Homo sapiens: one gene and its partner. The protein of the gene in region 1 purifies or fractionates together with the protein of each later gene. This does not show direct contact. Each region holds a gene or a part of one and is shown on either strand. Other genes may lie near its edges. The genes, in order: NDRG2 and LRRTM4.

Region 1 (4,386 bases):
CTCCTCCCTCTTGGCCTCTCCTTCTTTCCAGTAGACCCTGCCAAGTGGGGATGAAAGGGGCATTGATGTTCCTTGGATGGGAGGGGTATTGCGGGTGGTGAGGGTGGTGGTGGGAGGGTGGTTCCCAGGCAGGAGGGGGCAGGGAAACTTGGGGGTCTTGGGGGGGCAGTCGGTGCTGGTGTTGCAGTTGGCAGCTCAAGTTCCATTGGCCATTGTTCCTGACTGGCCTGGCGCCCAGCCCCCGAAATGGCAACTCAGGAACCAGTCTGAAGGGGGTTGGGGTGGATATGATCCTGGGATTGGGGGAGCTACAAGGGGGGCAGGTGGGGAGAAATTCAGTCAGGTTTCCTTTTGCCTAAACAACTTCGAATTCCCTTAAGCCACATTTTTAATCAACTAACTCATTCCAGGGAGCCTTCCTCCGAGGGGCACAAGGAGAGCTCATTCCAGGGTGTGTGTGTGTGTGTGCGTGTGCGTGTGTGTGTAAAGTCTACAGTGGCAAACCCACTCGGGCACCGAGAGGGACGCGGCAGACCCTGAGACCATCCCCCGGGCATTGCGATTCAGCGGGCCTGAGCTGGTCTCCTATTCTGGGCCGGACTGGGAGGGGTTAGCGGCGAAGCCACAGGGTCTCTTGGGTCCCAGCCCAGGACACTGCGTCCTCCCCAAGCCCCTACTCCACCCCCGCAGGGTTAACTCCGCCCCTGCGCCTGTTTACCCAGGAGTCAGAGCCTCTGGGGGTCCCCGGCCCCTCCCCCGCGCCCCTTGAGGCATTGACCCCAGAGTCCCTGTTGGCCATCCTCTCCCCACCCCCCGCCTGCCCGCGATCGCCCTCTATTTATAGCGGCCCCCCGCATTCCCCGCCCCCACCTCCCCGCCTTGTTGTCCAACTTCTCCCGGAGCAGCCGGAGAGCAGGCGTCGGGACGCAGCAAAGAGAGGAGAGGTACCAGGACTCTGGGCACGAGGGAGTCGGAACTCCTGCGCCCTCGACGTTCCCCCGTGCCCCCTTTCGGCGCCAGCACACCTGCCCCTGCCAGCCGGCGAGACCCCCGCCTCCTCAGCGGCGGTCCCGCCCACCTCCTCCTTTCTTAATCTAGTTCTCTGTGTTCGGGCGGGGGGAGTCGAACTCGTGGGGTGTCAGTATCCCGGGTTCGTCTCCCCACTACCGGTTCCCACCACTGAGTCTGGGGGCGAAGGAAGGAGCCAGAGTGCAATTGCAGATCCAGGTCGTGGATGGGGCGGTGCTGAGGGCAGCCGAGGGATCCCTCTCAGGGCTGAGGGATCCCCGCACTCCCCACACCGCCCCAATGCGGGGAGGGGGTGGTGGAATGTTTTGGTGAGCCGAGCAGAGCCTGGAAGCGTCCAGCCGCCCGCCCCTCGCCCCCCGGCCCCAGCACAACCCTTTCCTGAGCGGCAGTCTGGGCGGGGTGAAAGGGGGGGCGTGTTTACTGGGGGTCTGGGGCGGGTCTGCGGGGAGCCTAGCGCCCGTGGGCGGGCTGGGGCGGGCCGGGGGCGGGTCTGCGGGAAGCCCGAGCCGGGGCGGGCCCGAGTCAAAGGCAAGTGAAGGTGGAAGCGGCCGCGGCGGCAGCAGGTAGGGGGAGGGGCAGGCGAGGGGCCGTAGGGCCTGGAAGGCGCCAGCCGGGCCGGCGGGCGGTGTGATTGATCCGCGTCCCCTGGAGCTGGAGGCTCGGGGGAAAGGGCCAGCACGGAGCGGGCGCTCGGTTGCTGCGCACAAAGGCTGAGGCTCCAAGAGCTGCAGGGCGTGTTTGGGGTGCGCGCGAGGTTGTGTGCAAGGTCCGGGGCGCTTGGCACCGGCCACGCAAGGGTGTCAGTCTCCACGCGGACGGGCTGCGTAGGGACTCGTAGGGACGGGTTCCGGGTGCTGGGCCCGGCCGGTCTCCTCTGTCCTACCCATCCCTTCCCGATGGCGCTTGCCTTCGCGGGCCGTCGGGGGAGAACGGGAGAAGATTGTGGGACCGCTCTCCTCTCCCTTTCTCCACTCGTGGGACCTACACGGAGACTGAGTAGAGGAGAGAAGCGACGGCACCAATCTTTGTGTTTGTTTTTAAATTGTGGAGGGAAACAGCCATGCTCTGCTACCCTCCTCTTACTGGAGAGCTGTCAAAAATTTTGGGGATCCCCTATTCCCCCGCGTTTAGTCCCCCTGCAGATAGAAAATTGAGGCCAAATGTAGTAACTAACTGGGGCAAGGTCACACTGGGAGTGGCAGAGCCGGGATTCGAATCCGGAGGTTCTGACAGGGCCACCCTCTTACCTCCACATCAGCACTTCCTTCTCTCCTCCGCGCAGCCTGAACTGATGCCCTTGTAGCCTATATTGATTCCGGCTCGAGCCTAGAGAGGACGTGTTCTCTGGACTTAGGGGTAGACAGACACTGGGGAGGGTTAGTGACCCGAGGAGGTTGATGACCCTGGGAGTCTGGGTCTTGGCTGAGGCTTTCCGTCCCTGAAAGACCCCAGGTCTGTCTCCCATGTCATTCACCTCGTTGCTGTGTTTTCTCAGACCCCAGAGTCAGAAGGAGTGAGAACCCTGACCCCTAATCCCACTGCATCCAGCCAATAGGAGCCCAGTAAGTGACCCCACCCCGCAGGCTGCAGGCTCCTTCCTGTGCAGGTCTGTCCAGGTGCTCTGCTCCTCACCCACTAATGTTGAACTTGCGGAGTTTATTCAGAGTTGGGAGGAAGGGTCTTGGGAGGAAGGGAGGCATTGGGTTGGTTGGACAGATGTCCCTTTTATGTTGTTTTCCCCACCTCCCCCATTGGTCATGTTGCTTTGGTCATTTTTAGCCCCCTTTGAGCTGCCGACTTTGGGGCTTTAATTGAAGGTCATGGTCAATTGTGAACTCTCACAGTCCCGTCTTTTGGTACCCTGTCCTTTAGAATACTCAGTCACTGAGCTACAAGTTTCACTCCCTACCTGAGAGTGTGGGGTGGCCCCTAAATATAGCCCGAGAAATCTGAGCTACACTTCTGCCCCACCCTGGTATTTTGGTCCAGGGCAGAGGAGGGAGGGGTCTGGAGGTGTGGTGTTGAGGGTGGCAGTGGGGATGGTGAGTATCAAGAGAAGGGCTGTCCTGATTCCTCTTCCAAAGCTTCCACCGATCAGCCTGGAAACGGAGCTGGGGGCAGGAAAGGCCCTCTGTGTGTTCTAGAGTAGTCTTCAACCCCTGGGTCCCTCTGTTCCCTGCATCTTCCTGTGCTGAGAGAGGAAGCCTGGTGTTTGAGGCGATGTGGGGATGTAGAGACAACTTCCCAGTCTCATTTCCTCATCCTGCCAGGCCACCATGGCGGAGCTGCAGGAGGTGCAGATCACAGAGGAGAAGCCACTGTTGCCAGGACAGACGCCTGAGGCGGCCAAGGTTATTAGAGACCGTTTGACTCCCATGCCCAAATTCCAGACCTCTAAGCATCCCCCTTGCCTTCTAACTTCCCAAGCGTACTGATCTTATTCTAACTCACACCACTGCTTCACCACTACCCTAGTCTCTCTCCCCATACACTATAATTGGGAGTCAGGCCCTTGTCTCGTCACTACACTAACCTTCATCCTTTCCGTGTCTCTCTTTGTCAATCTCTTTCTGTCTTTGGTCATTTGTTGGTCTGTCTTTACTTGCCTCTCTTTGTCTGTTTGTCTCTCCATCTGGGACGCCACATGGTCATGTGTTTCTGTGTGAATCCGTGTGTGTCTCTCCAGGAGGCTGAGTTAGCTGCCCGAATCCTCCTGGACCAGGGACAGGTAACAGTGTGGGGGCAGTCCCAAGGTGGGAGGAGGGGCTGTCCTCTTCCCCAGTAGAAGGATGGCCTCTGCTTGGCCCTCTCTTCTCTCTTTGCTTTCTTTCCTTCTATTCTAGTCCTTTCCCTTCCCTATCTCTCCCCTCTCCTTCCTTCCCCTCCTCTTCTCTCTCTAATCTTCATTATTCTTTCTTATCCTCAAACTCATCTTCCGGTATCATGTTTTCCTCAATTCTTGCTGATCCTGTTTTTAATTCTTTGTTCCCTTTTCCCTCTTGCCCACCCACTCCCAGCTCCCTGACCTTGGTGTTGCTCCTTTTCTGGCCTCGTCTCCTCTGAGCCTAGCTCTTGGTGCCCTGTTTTCCTGCAGACTCACTCTGTGGAGACACCATACGGCTCTGTCACTTTCACTGTCTATGGCACCCCCAAACCCAAACGCCCAGCGATCCTTACCTACCACGATGTGGGACTCAACTGTAAGGACCTTCATTCATCTCCCACTCCTGTCTGGGAAGAGGCTGTGGGGGAAGGGTAGAAATGAAACCCAGAGGGAGGGGAGGGGTCAGTGTGGGAAGGAGAAGTTCTCTCCTGGTCTGACTGTGGCATGAAAGGAAGGGTGAGTTCTGACTGGGG
Region 2 (3,809 bases), on another chromosome or scaffold:
TAAAGGCCTTCGGAAACTCATCATTTTGCACTTGAGATCTAACTCACTAAAGACTGTGCCCATAAGAGTTTTTCAAGACTGTCGGAATCTTGATTTTTTGGATTTGGGTTACAATCGTCTTCGAAGCTTGTCCCGAAATGCATTTGCTGGCCTCTTGAAGTTAAAGGAGCTCCACCTGGAGCACAACCAGTTTTCCAAGATCAACTTTGCTCATTTTCCACGTCTCTTCAACCTCCGCTCAATTTACTTACAATGGAACAGGATTCGCTCCATTAGCCAAGGTTTGACATGGACTTGGAGTTCCTTACACAACTTGGATTTATCAGGGAATGACATCCAAGGAATTGAGCCGGGCACATTTAAATGCCTCCCCAATTTACAAAAATTGAATTTGGATTCCAACAAGCTCACCAATATCTCACAGGAAACTGTCAATGCGTGGATATCATTAATATCCATCACATTGTCTGGAAATATGTGGGAATGCAGTCGGAGCATTTGTCCTTTATTTTATTGGCTTAAGAATTTCAAAGGAAATAAGGAAAGCACCATGATATGTGCGGGACCTAAGCACATCCAGGGTGAAAAGGTTAGTGATGCAGTGGAAACATATAATATCTGTTCTGAAGTCCAGGTGGTCAACACAGAAAGATCACACCTGGTGCCCCAAACTCCCCAGAAACCTCTGATTATCCCTAGACCTACCATCTTCAAACCTGACGTCACCCAATCCACCTTTGAAACACCAAGCCCTTCCCCAGGGTTTCAGATTCCTGGCGCAGAGCAAGAGTATGAGCATGTTTCATTTCACAAAATTATTGCCGGGAGTGTGGCTCTCTTTCTCTCAGTGGCCATGATCCTCTTGGTGATCTATGTGTCTTGGAAACGCTACCCAGCCAGCATGAAACAACTCCAGCAACACTCTCTTATGAAGAGGCGGCGGAAAAAGGCCAGAGAGTCTGAAAGACAAATGAATTCCCCTTTACAGGAGTATTATGTGGACTACAAGCCTACAAACTCTGAGACCATGGATATATCGGTTAATGGATCTGGGCCCTGCACATATACCATCTCTGGCTCCAGGGAATGTGAGGTATGAACCATGATCCTCCTAAAAGCATTTCTACTGCGGGGAAGGAGAGGTAAATGTTTGAAGCCCTAGAGGTGTCTCTAATCACTAGAAAGATTAATGACCCTTTTGCTTTTGGGTTTTGCTCAGTGTGAAAGGTTACTTAATTAAATTACAACCACCAGGAAATTGACTGCTTTTTTTTTTTTTTTAAATGGTTGAAACTTGAAGGAAGTTCATTCAAGGATAAGTTGGAATAAAGCACTATGTTAAAACATCTGCTTTTTAACAATTTGTATACAGGGGTTGGACTTAAAAACACACATACAAACAAAACTCTTTTCATTCTGAAATTTCTGTCTGGTTCTTGGTGTTTGACTGTTGTAATGGAGTAAAGAAGAGGGCCAGCTTAATTTAAAAATAAAGTGAGTTTACCAAAATTCCAGAAGGTAATGAAGATTTAAACCAAAGAGCAATTTTCCCAAGGGTTGATTTTGTTGTAAATTTTTAGTTTTAATGAAAGCATGCAACAGGGATCTCACACCCATGTTACTTGCCATTTAGTTATTATACCAGCATAGAGAATGTCAGAGGCCTACTGTGTAATTGTATCAGGCTCCTAAGGCTTCTTTCTTTTTTTTTTTTTGTTTCCTTCTTTCCTACTTTCTTTCACTCCTTCCTTTCCTTCCTTTCTCTTCCTTCTTTTTTTGTTTGTTTGTTTGTTTTTTAATTACTGGGATATAGATCCGATTTCAAAGGTTTTTATGCACTGGCTATTTGTGTTTAATCAGAATGAAACTTCAATTCCATGCTTTGGCTTTGTCCCTGGTAACTAAAATCAGGTCACAATTTTGTGGATGATTTAGCAATAATAAAATGGCAGTCATAACAGGGACTGTTTGTCAGTATTGCTGTCATCCCCAAAAGAAATGATATGTATTCTTGTTAAACTTATTAAAAAATAAGTGATACAAATATTTATAAATAAAAGGAGAGAGGTTTGAGTTCTGGGTATCCTCCCTTTCTGTAACAGCCTCAAATAAAGGTGTACCTTCCATGTTATATTATTTTTGTTTTTATAAGAATAAATTTGGACCCGGTTTCTGATTATTTAATTTAAAAGATCACTTACAGGATCATGTTAGTGAGCAGACAAATAGTCACAAATTTCAAACTTGTCAATAAGTAATGCTGGATGTAAATTGTTCTTTTCTTGGTAATGTTGATCATTATGTGCAAAGACTGACTACTAAGGCCTTGTTGCTGGAAGAAACTAGTGAAGAGAGGTTAAATTCTGGCAATATAATGTTTTAGTATCTGATTTTAGATGATCACTCTTTCAAAAGACAGTTTTAATGAGTAATTAAAGATGTTGCCCTTTCTAATGCTAGTTAACAGTTGGAAAATATAATTGCTCTTTGATAGCATATACTCCAATTTTTCCATAGTCCTAACTACAAATGCTAATGAAAATGTTTTCAGACAAAGCACTGAATTTGAAATAATCTCTAACTCAGTACAATTTGGACTATTGAACTGTTCTTCAAAGAATTCATTTTCTTCTTTTTTGTGTATCATTGAAAATAAGAGAAGTAATCCCAGATAATAAATTCCTAAAAGGAAACTGTATAAGCAATTGCCCTTAAAAATTAAAAAGAATAAAAGATTTTCTATAAAAGTCTAACAAGGCTTGATGTTTTTATTGCAGGCCCACAATTATACAATATACTTGAGTATTAGTAACACAAGTTCATCCTATTTTATTCTGGGTTCTCCTTATATTTTGTGATCCTCTTAAAGGCTGGTATATAAAAAGAAAAGAAAATTCTAGACGCATTAATTCATTTTCTCTTGACTTTTGGAGTAGAATGCTAACTTTTATGTTTAAGAATCACCAAGAAGAAAGAAACATTCTTAAAGAACCAGGATTTGAGAACTGGGGTTCTAAGACTTTTCCAGAGATCTTAAATTTCACAGATTATTCCATCAAAAACCCTAGGCATTACCATGACAGAAACAAGTTTAAAAGATGGTTCATTTAATTAAAACGTGTGTTTAAATAAACACATTTTGATATTGTATGTGTTATATAGATTGACATTTAATGTCATGAAATTGCACTAGTATTGTTGAAAATGAATGTGTTGTTAAGGCATTAAGTAATGAAGAATGTAATTAAATATTGTAATAATTCTGTTGAGTCAAAATGGAATCCTTACTAAAGTAGCTCAAACTTTCTGTGCCCTCAAACATGGACATTAGTAGGCTATACATTTAAGATCATATGTCCATTTAGGATGAGGAGGGGGGTGCTATAAAACTATATTTAAATGAATTTCAACTTGTTTTAAAACGAAAGCATACAAAAACAAACATTGCAGGGGTCACCCCATTTTTTGACAGAATGTTTGCTGTATTACAGTTATAGGTAGATATAAATGGTGAGGAAAAGCAAACTCTTAGAAATTGTTATAGGGAAAACCCTAATTACTTCTTACTTCTTTGTCACTCGGAGTAAAATTTCTCCTGTTGAGAAATATTCCTTTGGACAAAATCTCTCTACAAAATAGAGCCAAGAGAGGGCAGCGATTTGCCCAACTTTACAATGTTTTTGGAATAGTATAAGTATGCTGAGTTTTAGCTTGGCATTGTTTTCATAAGTCTCATATATCACTAGTTTAGCAGAGAACCATTAATATATTTATAAGACATTTTTGTGAGGTAGGTTTTTTTAAAAAAA

The links.
Region 2: the proteins of NDRG2 (region 1) and LRRTM4 purify together in Homo sapiens (co-immunoprecipitation; one large-scale study listed by IntAct). This does not show direct contact.

The regions. Positions count from the first base shown.
Region 1 is NC_000014.9:21,022,235-21,026,620, reverse strand, and holds the start of NDRG2 (protein NDRG2), read left to right. Parts: upstream 1-1,559; 5' UTR 1,560-2,591; exon of another isoform or gene 2,592-2,645; intron 2,646-3,113; exon of another isoform or gene 3,114-3,299; coding exon of another isoform or gene 3,300-3,305; coding exon 3,306-3,380; intron 3,381-3,715; coding exon 3,716-3,757; intron 3,758-4,123; coding exon 4,124-4,229; intron 4,230-4,386. UniProt on the Homo sapiens protein: Contributes to the regulation of the Wnt signaling pathway. Down-regulates CTNNB1-mediated transcriptional activation of target genes, such as CCND1, and may thereby act as tumor suppressor. May be involved in dendritic cell and neuron differentiation.
Region 2 is NC_000002.12:77,515,602-77,519,410, reverse strand, and holds part of LRRTM4 (leucine-rich repeat transmembrane neuronal protein 4 isoform a precursor), read left to right. Parts: coding exon 1-1,093; coding exon of another isoform or gene 1,094-1,099; exon of another isoform or gene 1,100-2,753; intron 2,754-3,809. UniProt on the Homo sapiens protein: May play a role in the development and maintenance of the vertebrate nervous system. Exhibits strong synaptogenic activity, restricted to excitatory presynaptic differentiation.